Linked DNA regions of Homo sapiens: region 2 is linked to region 1. Evidence: fine-mapped expression QTL. A gene starts in region 1. The other region holds a variant in brackets. All regions are shown on one strand. Distances are between the middles of the regions.

Region 1 (8,735 bases):
GACTTTTCACAGCTCTCCCTAGGCATTTGTCTTCCTAGGTAGTTGAAGATTTGGCTGCAACTTTTCTGAAATATTTCTGAGAGGTGTTTCTTGAACTTCTCCCCAACAAAAGCATAGATAACAGGGTTCACACAGCAGTGAGTAAAGGAAATGATTTCTGTGACATGGGTGGCATAAGTCAGCTGTTGGCTTATGCTACATCCATCCAAGATGTGCATACTGTGCAAGGAAGTGAGGAAAAGAACCACGTTGAATGGGACCCAGAAAAGTAAAGATGCAATGACCACAATGAGCACCAACCTGATGGCCTTGGTCTTGTTGTGGTTTTGACACCTCTTCAGCTGGTGCAGGATTTTAATGTAGCAGAACATAAAGATGGTGAATGGGATCAACAAGCCTAAAATGTTCATTTTGAAGTTGGTGAAGATCTTCCACTTCAAAGTCTGTTGATTGTAAAATGAATAACACTGTAGAACACCATCTTCAGAGGCCACTTGGTAAAACACTAGCAATGGGATGGTAGCCATAATGGCGGTTAGCCATACTGCCAGGCACAGCGTTGTGCCCATCCTGATCGTCCTCACCTTTAGGGCATACACGGCATGGACAACAGCCAGGTACCTGTCCACACTCATGAGGGTGATGAAAAACATGCTGCTGTAGAAGCCAATGTAATAAAAGCCAGACACCACTTTGCACATTACAGTCCCAAACACCCACTGGTCCAGCAGATAGTAGGTCTGAAAGGGGAAGGAGAAGACAAAAAGCAGGTCAGACAGGGCCAGGTTCAAGAGGTATACATCTGTGATGCTCCTCAGCTTCTTGCAGACCACAAGGACCAGGATGACCAGGCTGTTTCCCAGAAGACTGAATACAAACAGGAGGCAATAAAAGACAGCAAGGAGCAACTTGCCATTTGTCTGAATAAGTTCCGCATCACAGGGGCTTGAGAAGATATCAGGGTAGTAGTAGTCGGTCACTGTTGTCACACTGAGGTCAAGTGTATAATCCATCAAGGCAGCGGGACCTGGTCACAGAGACACATAAAAGACATTCACTCCTTAAAAACATTTTTATTTTTTAAAAATTAGGGGGATGTTATGGACTGAACTGTGTCCTCCCCAAATTCATGTGTTGAAGTGCTCAACCTCCGGTGTGGGTGTGACTATTTGGAGTGGGTGAGACTATTTGGGCCTTTAAAGATGTAATTAAGGTTAAATGATAGACCGGGAGCTGTGGCTCATGCCTGTAATCCTAGCACTTTGGGAGGCCAAGGTGGGCAGATCACCTGAGGTCAGGGGTTCAAGACCAGCCTTGCCAACATGGCGAAACCCCGTCTCTACTAAAAATACAAAAATTAGCCGGGCATGGCGGGTGCATGCCTGTAATCCTAGCTACTCAGGAGGCTGAGGCAGAAGAATCACTTGAACCGAAGAGGTGGAGGTTGCTGTGAGCCGAGATCACACCACTGCACTCCATCCTGGGCGACAGAGTGAGATTCTGTCTCAAAAAAAAAAAAAAAAATTAAAATTAAAAAAAAAAAAAAAAGGTTAAATGAGGTTATAAAGGCAGGGCCCTGGCTCTCACAGTGACTCACACCTGTAATCCCAGCACTTTGGGAGGCCAAGGTAGGCGGATTGCTTGAGGCCAGGAGTTCGAGACAAGCCTGGCCAACAGTGCAAAACCCCGTCTCTACTAAAATTACAAAAATTAGCCAGGCATGGTGCCACATGCCTGTAATCCAAGCTACCTCGGGAGGCTGAGGCACGACAATTTCTTGAACCCAGGAAGCAGGGGTTGCAATGACTCGAGATCAAGCCACTGTACTCCAGCCTGGGTGACAGAGTGAGACTCTGTCTCAAAAAAAAGAAAACAGAAACAAAACCAAAAAAGGCAGGGCCCTAATCTGATAGAACTAGTGTCCTTAACAGAAGAGAAAGAGACACAAGAAATTTTGCTCCCCTTGTGCATGGAGTAAAGACCATGTGAGGACACAGCAAGAAGGCTGAAATCAGCAAGCCAGGTAGAGAAGCCTCACCAGAAATCAACTGCATTGGCAGCTTGGTCTTGGACTTCCAGCCTTTAGAAGTATGTTAAACAACACTTTCTGTTGTTTAAGCCACTCAGTCTATTGTATTTTGTTATGTAAACCAAAGGGAGTCAGCTGAGATGAGAAAAGCCAAAACTTACAAAGAAAATGTAAATACCCATAGTTCCATCACCTAGAATTAGCAGCTGCTAACATATTCTCACAATGCTTTGGGTTATTTTTTTTTCCTTCCTTCCTTCTTTTTTTCTCCCTTCTTTTCTCCCTCCCTCATTCCCTCTCTTCCTTCCATCCCTCTTTCTTTTTTTATTTCTGATGCAATAGAGATGAAGCTAATGTTCCCTTTAACTACACAACTTATCCCCATAACAGAAACAACAACTAAAACCAATTTGGTATGTATCATTCCAAACAATTTCCCCCTGTACTTTTACATATTTATATATATCCATAAACAATATATATTTTTGTGTGTTTTAACTTACATAAATGATATATTGTTTTAACTTACATAAATGATATATTGTTTTTCCCTTTGTATTTTGCTTATTGTTTTAGAGATATATCTGCATGATATTCATCAGTTTATTCTTTTAATTGCTTTCCTAAGCACCAGAAAAAAAATAACTTTATAAATGCAATAGAAAAATGATCCCAATTATACTAGCAATGAAAATTACTAGCATTACTAGGAATAAAACTAATAAAAATGCAATTCAGTTACATAAAAATTATAAAACTTGACAATTCTTCTCAAATTGATATATACATTCAATGCAATTTCAATCCAGACATATTTTTCCAAGGCATTTGTTTGCTTTACATTCAGACACCCCTCTCCACTCTGCTACTTTTCTATGATTTGAAAGCACAAGCAAGCAAGCAAGCAATTTATTTATTTTTTTAGAGACAGGGTCTCACTATGTTGCCCAAGCTGGAGTACAGTAGTTATACGCAGGTGTGATCTCACACAAAGCCCTGACTTCTGGGCGCAAGCAATCCTTCTGCCCCAGGCTCTTGAGTAGCTGGGACTACAGGCACCCACCAGCAACTTCTTTAGTCATATGAAAGTTTGCTCGCTGGCTTCTTTCCTTAAGAACAGCACCCAGGTGTCCTTCAGTTACCTGATAGAAGCCCTGTACCCAGCACAAGGACAGATCTTCCCAGATGCCTGGTATTATAAAGGATCTTCTCTTATCTACCTTCCCACTCTTGTAGGAGTTTTCACTCTCTCCTAAAGGCCTGCAGAGAATATGGCACGGTTTGCTCTCCTCAGCCAGAGCATGGGCAGCCACTAAGACACATGCATGTTTGTGGGCTCTGAGGAAATGCAAAGATTTAAAAAAAAATTTTACTTCTTGTGCTAGACCTCTGAAATTTTGGTCTTCCCTTTGCCTATCCTCTAAAGATATAAAAATGCCCCTGCCTACTCATGCCCTTCTTCCCCAAGGATGCTTGTAGCACATACCTTAGTGACAGCCTTTGTTCTGGAGGTTTCAGTGTTGCCAATTCCTTCTTCACAAAGTCTGTATCCTCATGTGAGTGCAGCTCAATGAGCAGCAGCCTCTCTGGAGGTATCCTCCCACTACAAACAGCAGATGGAGAGAAGGCAGTCTCTTGAGGGCTCCACCCTCACACCTAGTCACCTAAAGGGAGGCAATGAGGGTTAAATGAGATCGTAAGGCTGAGGCCCTAATTCAATAGGACTGGTGTCTCCTAGGTAGAGGAATACACACCAGAGCTCACTCTCTTGCCTCCAGGTGCTCAGAGGAAAGGCCATGTGAGGACACAGGGAGAAGGCAGCCATCTGCAAGTAAGGTAAATAGGCATCACCAGAAACCAGACTTGTGGGCACCTTGGTCTTCTAGCCTCCAGAACTGTGGGAAAACAAATTTCTGTTGTTTAAGCTACTCAGCCTGTAGTATTTTGTTATGGAAGTCCTAGCAGACTAATACAGGGGTTAATGGGAATTTTCTGTGTTGTCTACCTAGATTTTCTGTAAACTTAAAACCTCTAAAAAATAGTCTATTAAAATTTTTAATTGAAATCAGTATTAAAATGAAATCATAATTCCATTATTATTTTGAAGTTATACAATTTATACCAGGACTGGCTTTCCTCCATGGTATGTAGCATACACAAATGTGTGTGTATGTTGTATGCATGTACATATATTAACTCTTTCAACAGGAATGCCATTTGAAAATCACTTTAAGTCAGTTTCCCCTATCCCAGGAGAGTGAACATGAGTCCCAGAATTGTTGGGAGGAAATGACAGAAGTTCCAGAATCTCCTCATCTCCAACCCACTCATTCCTGGAGAAATGCAGTAGAAATATCTGCTGGATGCCAGGTACGGTGGCTCACATCTGTAATTCCAGCATTTTGGGAGGCTGAGGCAGGAGGATTGCTTGAGCCTAGGAGTTCAAGACCAGACTGGTCAACATAGCAAGACCCCATCTCATACGGTTTGGCTCTGTGTCCCTACCCAAATCTCATCTTGAATTATAATCCTCATAATCCCCATGTGTCAAGGGCGGGACCAGGTGGAGTTAATTGGATCATGGGGGCAGTTTCCCCCATGCTGTTCTCATGATAGTGAGTGAGTCTCAAGAGATCTGATCTGATGGTTTTATAAACACCTGGCATTTTCCCTGCTTGCACTCACTCCATCCTGCCGACCTGTGAAAAATGTGCCTGCTTCTCCTTTGCCTTCCACCATGATTATAAGTTTCTTGAGGCCTCCCCAGCAATGCAGAACTGTGAGTCAATTTAACCTCTTTCCTTTATAAATTATCCAATCTTGGTCTTTCTTTATAGCAGTGTGACAACGGACTAATGCATCATCTGTACAAATTTTTTAAATAAAATTAGCCAGGCATGGTGGCATGCACTTGTAGTCCCAGCTACTTGGGAAGCTAAAGTGGGAGGATCACTTGAGTCCAGCAGTTTGAGGTGAGCTATGATTGAGCCACTGACCTGTCTCTAAAGAAAAAATAAAAGGAAATATCTGCTGGTACCTGAATTCATACCTCGGCAAATTCCCCTCACCATCATTCATGTTTTGACGCAGTTTGGGGAAAACCCAGTTCCTTTATGAGAGTTTTGTATGTGATAAGCAAAGATCAATGGTGAGCCGATGGAGAACTCAGGGCCCTCAGGTATTACTAGTCCATGTCATGATGGTGGGAACTATGGGACCGCCTCATCAGTGAGGGCAGGTGTGGGGGAAGCCACCTTCCCCTCCAAAGCCCAGTTAAGCAAGGCCTGAGGGACTAAGGTGGAATTCCCCCCAAGCCCAGTTTCTAGTGCAAGCTGATCTAAACCCCAAACAGTCTCTATCTTCAGTTCCTGAGGATTCTTTTATCAGCTGCTCCTCCATACTTGGCACAGTGCTTAGTGCACAGCAACTTCTTAATAAATAGTTGAACAGAGAGAATGAGGCAAGGTGGAGATGTGGAGTCTGGTGAAGAGTTGGAGGAAAGGACTGAACAGCCAGAATGGAAGGATGCTCCTCTTTTTGTGTTTCCTGAGCCAGATCTGAGGGCTGGTGTGGGCCCCTGCAGGACTGGACACTTGCCTGCTGTCACCTGTGTATTTGTTTCCTGTGGCTGCTGTAACAAATTACCACCAACTTAGTGGCTTAGAGCAGCAGACGTGTATTCTCCCCCAGTTCTGGAGGCCAGATGGCTATAATCCAGCAGGGCTGCCTCCTTCTGGGTGCTTGAAGGGCGAATTGTTCCTTGCCACTTCTGGCTCTTGGTGGCTGCCCCAGCAAACCTGGGGCTTGTGGCCACATCACTTTAATCTCCACCATCTTCACATCTCCTTCTCCACTGTGTGTCTGCATCAGATCTCACCCACCTCTGATTTATGAGAACACTCATGATTGGATTTAGGATCCGTCCAGGTAATCCATGATAATCTCCCCATCTCAAAATCCTTGACTTAATCACATCTGCAGAAGCTCTTCTCCCAAGTAAAGTAACATTTACAAGTTCTAGGAATTAAGACTTCATCTCTTTGGTTGACCATTATTCAACCCACAACATCCTGACTCGGAAGACAGACAAACTGTGACATAGTTAACTGACAAGCCTTGGTTCCTCACCTTTGGGCCTACATCAGGGATTCAGGCATTCTATGGGAAGGCAGCAGAAACCAAACTACAAAACCAAAGTAGTGTGACCCCTCCAGAGCCAATGGCCTCTCCAAGTCTACCTTCTGCTGCACATTCAATGGGTTCTGAAAATGCTGGATCAGATCCATTGGGGACATCCCATCTAAATTCAATTCTACTGGGTCCCTCCAAAGGTTCAAAAGACTGTATTTCACTTCAGAGGGAAAAAGAGACTAGCAGCATATTTGACCTCCTTTCCTCCAAAATAAAGAGAAAGAAAAAACTGTATTTAAATAAACCCTAAGTGTAAATGTAGAAATTACTACTATCACAGATATTTGTCATAGAGTATTAGGGCAGAAAATGGCCTCAGGTCATACAGCTGATGTCTCTCTCCCTCTCTTTCTTTCAAAGTAGTAATATTTAAGTCCAGAGAGGCAAAGTGGCTCACCCAAAATCACACAGTAATTTGGTGGTAGAGCCAGAGCCAGAACTCAGGTCTTCCGAGGCACAGCTGAGGGTGCTTTTCTTACTGCACCACATTCAAAATTCTCGTGCAATAACATTATGAAGAGTTGTGGATAAGACTAGAGGAAGTCTTTCTGTATTTTCTATAGTTTTCAACTATATGTCAGTCCCTCAGTGATTTGTAGGGTAAAAATGCATTTGCTTAACGAAAAGTGTTAGACAAAGCCAGAGTTTAAGAAAAGCTCGTGTGTTATTAATAGTAAAGCCAGTTTTGCTGTCTATATAATTTAATTTCCCATATGGATTACAAAAAAGAGTAACAAGAAACAGATTTTCTTTTTTACTACTATTTATTTCCTTCATAAGAGTAATCATGACAATTGTCAGAATACAAAAAAAGGTATCATCATAATTTTGATTTGAAGGGTTGAATATGGAGAAATGTGGTTAATAACGTATTTTTAGTTGCATTTTCAGGAAATTCATATTACCTTGTGTGCCAGAATAATTGATTAGATCTCTTAGTGGTTTGTTTTGTTTTGTTTGAGACGGAGTTTTGCTCTTGTTGCCCAGGCTGGAGTACAATGGTGCAATCTTAGCTCACTGCAACCTCTGCCTCCTGGGTTCAAGTGATTCTCCTGTCTCAGCCTCCCTAGTAGCTGGGATTATAGGCGCCCGCCACTACACCTGGCTAATTTTTGGTATTTTTAGTAGAAACGGGGTTTTACCATGTTGGCCAGGCTGGTCTCTAACTCATGACCTCAGGTGATCCACCCGCCTCAGCCTCCCAAAGTGCTGGGATTACAGGCATGAACCACTGTGCCCGGCCTTTCTTTTTTTTTTTTTTTTTGAGACAGAGTCTTCCTCTGTGGCCCAGGCTGGACTGTAGCAGCATGATCTCAACTCACTGCAGCCTCCACCTCCCAGGTTCAAGAGACTCTCCTGCCTCAGCCTCCAGATTGGCTGGGACTACAGGTGCATGCCACCATGCCCGGCTAAATCTCTTAGCCTTTTGGTGGTGCTTTATTCCCAGAATTTATCTTCTACAAACATGCTCACCACCTTTTTCCAAGGCTACAAGCACTGAAGTGCCTAGCATATTCTCAGAACTGCTTTTGCCATTAGAAGGGATAAAAAAATGAAATTTATGATTTCCTCACTTAAGGAGCTTAGCAATCATGGCACTTTCATCACAGGAGTCCCAGGAGGTGATGGTTCTCTGAAGAATGATGAATAATGAAAGGAAAAAGTATCACTGTGAAAACCATGTAGAAACCCAGAGAAATCTTTATGATTAAGGTGGCATGTATACTATGACTGTCTCTTTGCGAAGCATGGATGAGTGTGGGTACATCCAGAATGAAATAGGCAGAAATTAAAACAATCTTATATTAGGTTATTTCTTTTTATTCTTAAAATTCTCTTTAATAAAGGCACGCTGTCATTTCAATTACAAGTTTTTAGGAAATAGAAAATTGCTATCAAGCACTAATTCAAAGCAAACACATTTTCATGTTGTGAATGATTTATTGATTAAATTGGAGATCAATTTAATAAGCCACACTTGTAATTCTCTCCCATTGACTTGCAAAAAGCACCTGCATTGCCAAAAGTGGTACACAAAGGAAGCCTGAGTTTATCATTATGAAGTTGGGGAGAAAAAAAAAATATGAGGCCAAAGTAGTGTGAGTCCTCCAGAACCAATGGCCTCTCCAAGTCTATCTTATGTTCAGTACCTGGGCCACATGAAAAACTCTTAAGGGGAAACTAGGAAGAGTTCGCCTCTGCCCAGGAAAAATGCTCACAAGTTAAGGGTAAACGTAGAATGTCAAGATACTTCTCTTCTTCACTCCTGATAATATTTACCCTGTTCCTCTGCATAGAAGAGGGGTTTGTGAAATACTGTTTTATTCCCTCTTTTCTTCTCCATCTTGTTACAAGGCCAAATGCATTCATTACTGTGACAGAGGAATACATGAAGGGCTTCAGGAGCAAAAGGGACTCTTGATTCTTCCTGGGTCTTCAGGGTAAGAATGTGGAGGAGATCAGGGAGCTGGCCTTAAAGAATGGGTGTGCCTTCCAGCCGGGAGTGAAGCATTAA
Region 2 (8,735 bases), 34 kb before region 1:
GGATGAAACTGGAAACCATCATTCTCAGCAAACTATCACAAGGACAAAAAACCAAACACCGCATGTTCTCACTCATAGGTGGGAACTGAACAGTGAGAACACATGGACACAGGAAGGGGAACATCTCACACCGGGGACTGTTGTGGGGTGGGGGGAGCGGGGAGGGATAGCATTAGGAGATATACCTAATGCTAAATGACGAGTTACTGGGTGCAGCACACCAACATGGCACATGTATACATATGTAACAAACCTGCACGTTGTGCACATGTACCCTAAAACTTAAAGTATAATAATAATAAAATTTAAAAAAAAAGAATAAGTGAGAAAATGCTGATTAGGTGCCTAGCTCACAGTAGGTGTTTAAAAATGTGAGTGTTCCTTTCTTCCTTTCCATATATTCCTCCTACTCTCATCATTTCCACTTAGTATTTCTTTTATTGATACATAATAGATGTACATGTTTTTGGAGTGTGTGTGATAATTTGATACAGTCACAGAATCGAATCAAGGTTGATGGGATATCTATCATCTTTTTTTTTTCCTTCAACTTTATTTTAAGTTCAGGGGTACACGTGCAGGATGTGGAGGTTTGTTACAGAGGTAAACGTGTGCCATGGTGGTTTGCTGCACAGATCATCTCGTTACCTAGGTATTAAGCCCAGCATCCATTAGCTATTCTTCCTGATCTTCTCCCTCCCCCACCTCCCACCCCCAACAGCCCCCAGTAGGTGTTGTTCCCTCCGTGTGTCCTTGTCTTCTCATCATTCAGCTCCCATTTATAAGTGAGGACATGTGATGTTTGGTTTTCTGTTCCTGTGTTAGTTTGCTGAGGATAACAGCTTCCAGCTCCATCCATGTTCCTGCAAAAGACATGATCTTTTTCCTTTTTATGGCTGGATAGTATTCCATGGTGTGTATGTACTAAATTTTCCTTAGTCTATCATTGATGGGCATTTGGGTTGATTCCATGTCTTTGCCATTGGGAATAGTGCTGGAGTGAACATATGCATGCATGTATCTTTATAATAGAATGATTTACATTCCTTTGGGTATGGACCCAGTAATGAGATTTCTGGGTCAAATGGTCCTTCTGCCTCTAGATCTTTGAGGAGTTGCCACACTGTCTTCTACAATGGTTGAACTAATTTACACTCCCACGGACAGTGCAAAAGCGTTTCCATTTCTCCACAACCTCAAGAGCACATCTGTTGTTTTTGACTTTTTAATAATTGCTATTCTGATTGTTGTAAGATGGTATCTCAATGTGGTTTTGATTTGCATTTCTCTAATGATCAGTGATGTTGAGTTTGTTTTTTTTTCATATGTTTGTTGACTATATAAATGTCTGGATTTGATTTGCCAGTATTTTATTGCGGATTTTTGCATCAATGTTCATCAGGGATATTGGCCTGAAGGTTTCTTTTTTTGTGGTATCTCTGCCAGGTTTTGATATCAGGATGACACTAGCCTCATAAAATGAGTTAGGAAGGAGTCCCTCCTTTTTAATTTTTTAAAATAGTTTCAGCAGAAATGGTACCAGCTCTTCTTTGTACCTCTGGTAGAATTAAGCTGTGAATCCATCTGGTCCTGGGCTTTTTTTGGTTGGTAGACTATTTATTATTGCCTCAATTTCAGAACTCATTATTGGTCTATTCAGGGATTCAATTTCTTCCTGGTTCAGTCTTGGCAGGGTGTTTATCAGTTTCTTCTAGATTTTCTAGTTTATGTGCATAGAGGTGTTTATAGTATTCTCCAGTGTTTGTTTATATTTCTGTGGGGTCAGTGGTAATATCCCCCTTATCATTTCTGATTGTGTTTATTTGATTATTTTCTCTTTTCTTCTTTATTAGTCTAGGTAACAGTCTATCTATTTGATTAATTTTTTCAAAAAACCACCTCCTGGATTCACTGATTTTTTTTGAAGAGTTTTTTATGTCTCTATCTCCTTCAGTTCAACTCTGATCTTGATTATTTCTTGTCTTCTGCTAGCTTTAGGATCTGTTTGCTCTTGGTTCTCTAGTTCTTTTAGTTGTGATGTTGGATTGTTAATTAGAGATCTTTCTAGTTTTTTGATGTGGGCATTTAGTGCTATAAACTGCTTTAGCTGCATTCTTGAGATTCTGGTACGTTGTCTCTTGGTTCTCATTAGTTTCAAAGAACTTCTCGATTTCTGCCTTAATTTTATTGTTTACCCAGGAGTCATTCAGGAGCAGGTTGTTCAATGTAGTTGTGTGGTTTTGAGTGAATTTCTTAATCTTGAATTCTAATTTGATTTCGCTGTAGTCTGAGAGACTGTTATGATTTCAGTTATTTTGCATTTGCTGAATGTTTTACTTCTGATTATGTGATAAATTTTAGATAAGTGCCATGTGGCAATGAGAAGAATGTATATTCTGTTGTTTTGGGGTGGAGAGTTCTGTTTTATCAGGTCCACTTGATCCAGAGCTGAGTTCAGGTCCTGAATATCTTTGTTAATTTTCTATCTCAATGATCTGCCTAATATTGACAGTGAGGTGTTAAAATTTCCCATTATTATTGTGTGGGAGTCCAGATCTCTTTGTAGGACTCTACGAACTTGCTTTGTGAATTGAATCTGGATGCTCCTGCATTGGGTGCATATATATTTAGGATAGTTATCTCTTCTTGTTGAATCAAACCCTTTACCACTGTGTGATGCCCTTCTTTGTCTTTTTTGATCTTTGGTTTAATGTCTGTTTTGTCAGAAACTAAGATTGCAACCCCTGCTTTTTTCTGTTTTCCATTTGCTTGGTAAATTTTCCTCCATCCCTTTCTTTTGAGCCTATGTGTGTCTTTGCATGTGAGATGGTTCCCTTGAAGACAGCATACCAATGGGTCTCCTCTTTAGCCAGCTTGCCACTTGGTGTCTTTTAATTGGGACATTTATTTAGCCCATTTACATTTAAGGTTAATATTTTTATGTGTGAATTTGATCCTGTCATCATGATGTCAGCTGGTTATTTTACAGACTTGTTTATGTAGTTGCTTCATAGTGTCACTAGTCTGTGTACTTCAGTGTGTTTTTGTAGTGGCTGGTAACAATTTTTCCTTTTCATATTTAATGCTTCCTTCAGGAGCTCTTGCAAGGCAGGCCTGGTGGTGACAAATTCCCTCAGCATTTGCTTTTCTGAAAAGGATCTCATTTCTCCTTCGCTTATGAAGCTTAGTATGGCCAGATATTAAATTCTGGGTTGGTAATTCTTTTCTTTAAGAATGTTAAATATTGGCCTCCAATGTCTTCTGGCATATAGGGTTTCCACGGAGAGTCCCACTGTTACTCTGATGGGCTTCCATTTTTAGGTGACATGACCTTTCTCTCTAGCTGCCCTTAACATTTTTTCCTTCATTTTGACCTTGAAGAATTTGATGATTATGTGTCTTGGGGTTGATCTTCTCATGGAGTATCTTACTGGAGTTCTCTGGGTTTCCTGTATTTGAATGTTGGCCTGTCTTGCTAGGTTGGGGAAGTTTTCCTGGATGATATCCTGAAGTATGTTTTCCAACTTGGTTCTGTTCTCCCTGTCTCTTTCAGGTACCCCAATCAGTGCTAAGTTCAGTCTTTTTACATAATCCCATATTTCTCAGAGAGTTTGTTAACCCTTTGTTATTATTTTTTCTTCTTCTCATCTGTCTGTCTTATTTCTGAAAGATAGTGTTCAACCTCTGAGATTCTTTTCTCTGCTTGGTCTATTCTGCTATTGATACTTGTGATTGCATTGTGAAGTTCTCATGTTGTGTTTTTCAGCTCCGTGAGGTCAGTTATGTTCCTCTCTAAACTGGCTATTCTAGTTAGTAGCTCCTGTATTGTTTCATCATGATTCTTAACTTGTTTGCATTGGGTTACAACATGCTCCTTTAGCTCGCAAGGTTCATTAATATCCATCTTCTGAAGCCTACTTCTGTCAATTCAGCCATGTCAGCCTCTGCCCAGTTCATTCCCCTTGCTGGAGAGTTATTGCAGTCATTTGGAGAAGAGGCACTCCACCTTTTTGAGTTTTCAGAATTGTTTTGTTGATTCAGTGTCAGTTTTGTAGGCTTATCTGCCTGCAATCTTTGAGGTTGCTGACCTTTGAATGGGCTTTTTGTGGGG[T/A]CTTTTTGGTTGATATTGTTGTCATAGTTTTCCATTTGTTTGTTTTTCTCTTAACAGGGCACTGACTTAGCAACCGTAGGGCTGCTGTGGTTTTCTGGGGGTCCACTCCAGACCCTAGTTGCCTCAGTTTTTCCTGTACCTGGAAGTATCATCAGTGAAGTCTGTGAAACAGCAAAGATGCCAGCCTGCTCTTTCCTCTGGAAGCTCTGTCCCCGGGGGTTACTGACCTTTTCCTGGCCTGAACACTCTTGTAGGAGGTGTCTGGAGACCCCTCTTGGGAGGTCTCACCCGGTAGGAGGAATAGAATTCAGGAAACACTTACAGAAGCAGTCCAGCTGCTTTTTGGTAGAGCAGGTTTGCTGTGTTGACAAGGCTACTCTTTGTCCAGATGCCTAGACTCTCCAGAGCTGGCAGGCTTGAATAGCTGAGTCAACTGAAGTGCAGATATGGAAGCCATCCCTGCCGCCTACCCTGCCCCCACCAAGTTCCCTCCCAGGGAGAGATCAGGTCTTTATAATACTGGCTGGAGTAACTGAAGGCTTCCCACAGGAAGACCCCACCCAGTGAGGAGGACTTGATCGGGGTCTGCTTACAGAGGCAGTCTGGGCACAATCTGGCAAGTCAAATGTGCTGCATTAGGGGGTTCCCTCTTGTCCTGACCACCTACACTCTCCAGAGCTGGCAGGCTGGAATACTAGTTGACCGCACTATGAAAATAGTGCCCACCCCTCCCCTGGGAACTCCTTCCTATCTCAGGTGGGCTCAGCCTGTTGCCCCTGGCTGGCTGGAATTCCAAGCCAGTGTGTCTTAACTTGTGAGGTGCTGTGGAAGTGGGGCCTGCAGAATGACACTTCTTGGTTCCCTGGATTCAGCCCCCTTCCTAGGGGAATGTATGAACAGATCTGCTGCCTCACCAGGGATTTTGGGGCTAGAGTATGTAAAAGTCTTGGGTCTCTGCGAGTGCCTGAGTGGCTGCTCTGCCAAGGCCCCACACAGCTCTGTGTATAGGACCCAAGGCCCTAGAGGTGTGGGCTCACGAGGGGATCTCCTGATCTGTGGGCTGCAAAGATCTGTGGGAGAAGCATGGTTTCCTGGGCAGGGTTGCATGATCACTCACCACTTCCTTTGGCTGGGGGTGGGGGTTCCTTTGGCTTTGTGCTACTCCCGGGTGGGTCATTGCCCCAACCTGCTTTTCTTCATTCTCCTTGAGTCAGGTTAATTTTCTAGTCAGTCCCATTGTGAGAACCTGGATATTTCAGTTGAAGGTGCTAAATCCACTTGCGATTTTCCTTACTCTCTGTGAGTGCTGCGGACCACAGCTGCTTCTATTCGGCCATCACCACTGCAGGACAAGTCACTGAATGAGGGACAGGGCTGCTCACAGTGGAAACCACAAAGTAGCTCATTCTGCTCAGCACCTCGCTTACTACTTTGCCAGAGAGACAGGGTGAGGAGCAGATACTGAGTGAGCTTCCCTCAATGTCTGTGGTCTCTTTCTAACTACCTGCGGGAATCCTTGGATATCTATCATCTTAAATATTTATCTTTTCTTTACACTAGGAACATTCATATTATTGTTTTCCAGCTATTTTGAAATGTTCAATTGATTAATGTTAACTATAGTCACCCTACTGATCTATTGACTACCATGTCTTACTTCTATCTAACTGTATATTTGTATCCATTAATTAACCTGTCTTCATTCCCCCTGTACCCATACTTTCCTACCTCTGGTAACCACCAGTCAACTTTCTATCTCCATAAAATCCACTTTTATAGCTCCCACATATGAGTGAGAACATGTGATATTTGTCTTTCTGTGCTTGGCTTATTTTACTTAACATGTTGATGCAAATGACAAGATTTCATTATTTAGATAGCTGAATAATGATTCATTGCATATATATATACATATTATATATACATATTTTATATATATACATATTATATATATATATACACACACACACACACACACACACCTGTTTTCTTTATTGAATCATCTACTGAGGAGTACTTAGATCAATTCCATATTTTGGCTATTGTGAAGGGTGCTGCAATAAACATGGGAATCCAGATCCCTCTTTGATGTATTGATTTCCTTTCTTTTGGCTATATACCCAATAGTGAAATTGCTGGATCATATGGTAGTTCTATTTTTTAGTTTTAGTTTTTTTGTGTTTTTTTTTTTTTTTTTGAGACAGAGTCTTGCTCTGTCACCCAGGCTGGAGTGCAATGGTGCCATCTTGGCTCACTTCAACCTCCACCTCCTGGGTTCAAGTGATTCTCATGCCTCAGCCTCCCGAGTAGCTGGGATTACAGGCACCTGCCACCATGCCCAACTAATTTTTTGTATTTTTTATAGAGACAGGGTTTTACCATGTTGGCCAGGCTGGTCTCAAACTCCTGACCTCAGGTGATCCACCCGCCTCGGCCTCCCAAAGTGCTGAGATTACAGGCATGAGCCACCATGCCTGGCCTATTTTTTAGTTTTTTGAGGAAACTCCACACTATTTTCCATAATGGCTGTACTAATTTATCTTCCCATCAACAGTGTATGAGGGTTCCTCTTTCTCCACATCCATGCCAATATCTGTTATTCCCTTTCTTTTTTTTTTTTTTTTCTCATTAAACCTTTTTAATGGGTCTCAAAATTCTGTAACAGATTTTTGGTCAAGTTGTTTCCATTAAAAAGTACTGATTTTAAAAACTAATAACTTAAAACTGCCAGATGCAAAAAAGAAAACCAAAGTGGTCCACAAAACATTCTCCTTTCCATCTGAAGGTTTTATGATGCATTGTTATCATTAACCAGTCTTTTACTACTAAACTTAAATGGCCAATTGAAACAAACAGTTCTGAGACCATTCTTCCACCACTGATTAAGACCGGGTGGCAGGTATTAGGGATAATATTCATTTAGCCTTCTGACCTTTCTGGGCAACTTGGTGACCTTGCCAGCTCCAGCAGCCTTCTTGTCCACTGCTTTGATGACACCCACGGCAACTGTCTGTCTCATATCACAAACAGCAAAGCGACCCAGAGGTGTTTAGTATGAGAAGCTCTCAACACACATGGGCTTGCCAGGAACCATGTCAATGATGGCAGCATCATCAGACTTCAAGAATTTAGGGCAATCTTCTGGCTTTTTACCAGAACGGCAATCAATCTTTTCCTTCAGCTCAGCAATCTTGCATGCAATGTGGACCATGTGGCAATACAGTACAGCGGCATAGCCAGCGCTGATTTGGCCTGGATGGTTCGGGATAATCACATGAGCAGTGAAGCTAGCTGACTCCATTGGTGGGTCATTTTTGCTGTCAATTGCCACGATGAACATCCTTGACAGACATATTCTTGACATTGAAGCCCACATTGTCCCCAGGAAGAGCTTCACTCAAAGCTTCATGGTGCATTTTGACAGATTTTATTTCATTGTAATGTTGGCTGGAGCAAAGGTGACCACCATACCAGGTTTGAGAACACCAGTATCCACTCAGCCAACAGAAACAGTACAAATGCCACCAATTTTGTGGACATCCTGGAGATGCAGGCACAAAGGCTTGTCAGTTGGATGAGTTGGTGGTAGGATGCAGTCCAGAGCCTCAAGCAGCATGGTTCCACTGGCATTGCCATCCTTATGGGTGACTTTCCATCTCTTGAACTAAGGCATGTTATCACTTGACTCCAGCATGTTGTCACCATTCCAACCAGAAATTGGCACAAATGCTACTGTGTCAGGGTTGTAGCCAATTTTCTTAATGTAAGTGCTGACTTCCTTAATGATCTCCTCATATCTCTTCTGGCTGTAGAGTGGCTCAGTGGAATCCATTTTGTTAACACCAACAATTAGTTGTTTCACACCCAGTGTGTAAGACAGGAGGGCATGCTCTTGGGTCTGCCCATTCTTGGAGATACCAGCTTCAAATTCAGCAACACCAGCAGCAACAATCAGGACAGCACAATCAGCCTGAGACATCCCTGTAATCATGTTTTTGATGAAGTCTCTGTGTCCTGGGGCATCAATGATAGTCACGTAGTATTTGCTGGTATCAAATTTCCACAAGGAGATATCAATGGTGATACCATGTTCACGCTCAGCTTTCAGCTTATCCAAGACCCAGGCATACTTGAAGGAGCCTTTTCCATCTCAACAGCCTCCATCTCAAATTTTTCAGTGGTTCTTTTGTCGATGCCACCGCATTTGTAGATCAGATGACCAGTAGTGGTGGACTTGCCCAAATCTACATGTCCAATGACAACAATGTTGATATGAGTCTTTTCCATTCCCATTGTTGCTTTTAGGGGTAGTTTTCACAACACCTGTGTTCTGGTGGCAAAACCAGTGTGAAAAAGCTCCTTTCTTTTTGATAAAAAAGAAAGCCGTTTTAACTGTGGTGAGATGGTATCTCACTGTAGGTTTTTTGTTTTTTTTTTTTGTTTGTTTTTTTTTTTTTTTTTTTTTTGAGGCAGAGTCTTGCTCTACTGCTGAGGCTGGAGAACAGTGGTGTGATCTCAACTCACTGCAACTTCTGCCTCCTGGATTCAAGTGATTCTCCAGCCTCAGCCTCCCTAGTAGCTGGGATTACAGGTGCATGCCACCATGCCTGGGTAATTTTTGTAT

The links. PIP is the estimated chance that this variant, and not a neighbour inherited with it, causes the effect.
Region 2: its variant is fine-mapped to the expression of CCR8 in whole blood (TOPMed, PIP above 0.99). The same link has a PIP of 0.9 or more in T cells and lung.

What each region holds. Positions count from the first base shown.
Region 1 is chr3:39,324,610-39,333,344 of GRCh38, reverse strand. It overlaps CCR8 (C-C motif chemokine receptor 8), which reads right to left and starts at 3,636. Exons shown (of 2, transcript NM_005201.4): 1 at 3,516-3,636; 2 at 1-1,027. The coding sequence starts at 1,013. RefSeq lists enhancers at 4,965-5,054, 5,405-5,494.
Region 2 is chr3:39,358,214-39,366,948 of GRCh38, reverse strand. It overlaps the pseudogene EEF1A1P24. Among named protein-coding and RNA genes, the nearest start is that of SLC25A38, 21 kb to the left of the region's middle. RefSeq lists an enhancer at 5,225-5,454. The variant T/A (reference allele first, on the strand shown) is at 4,112.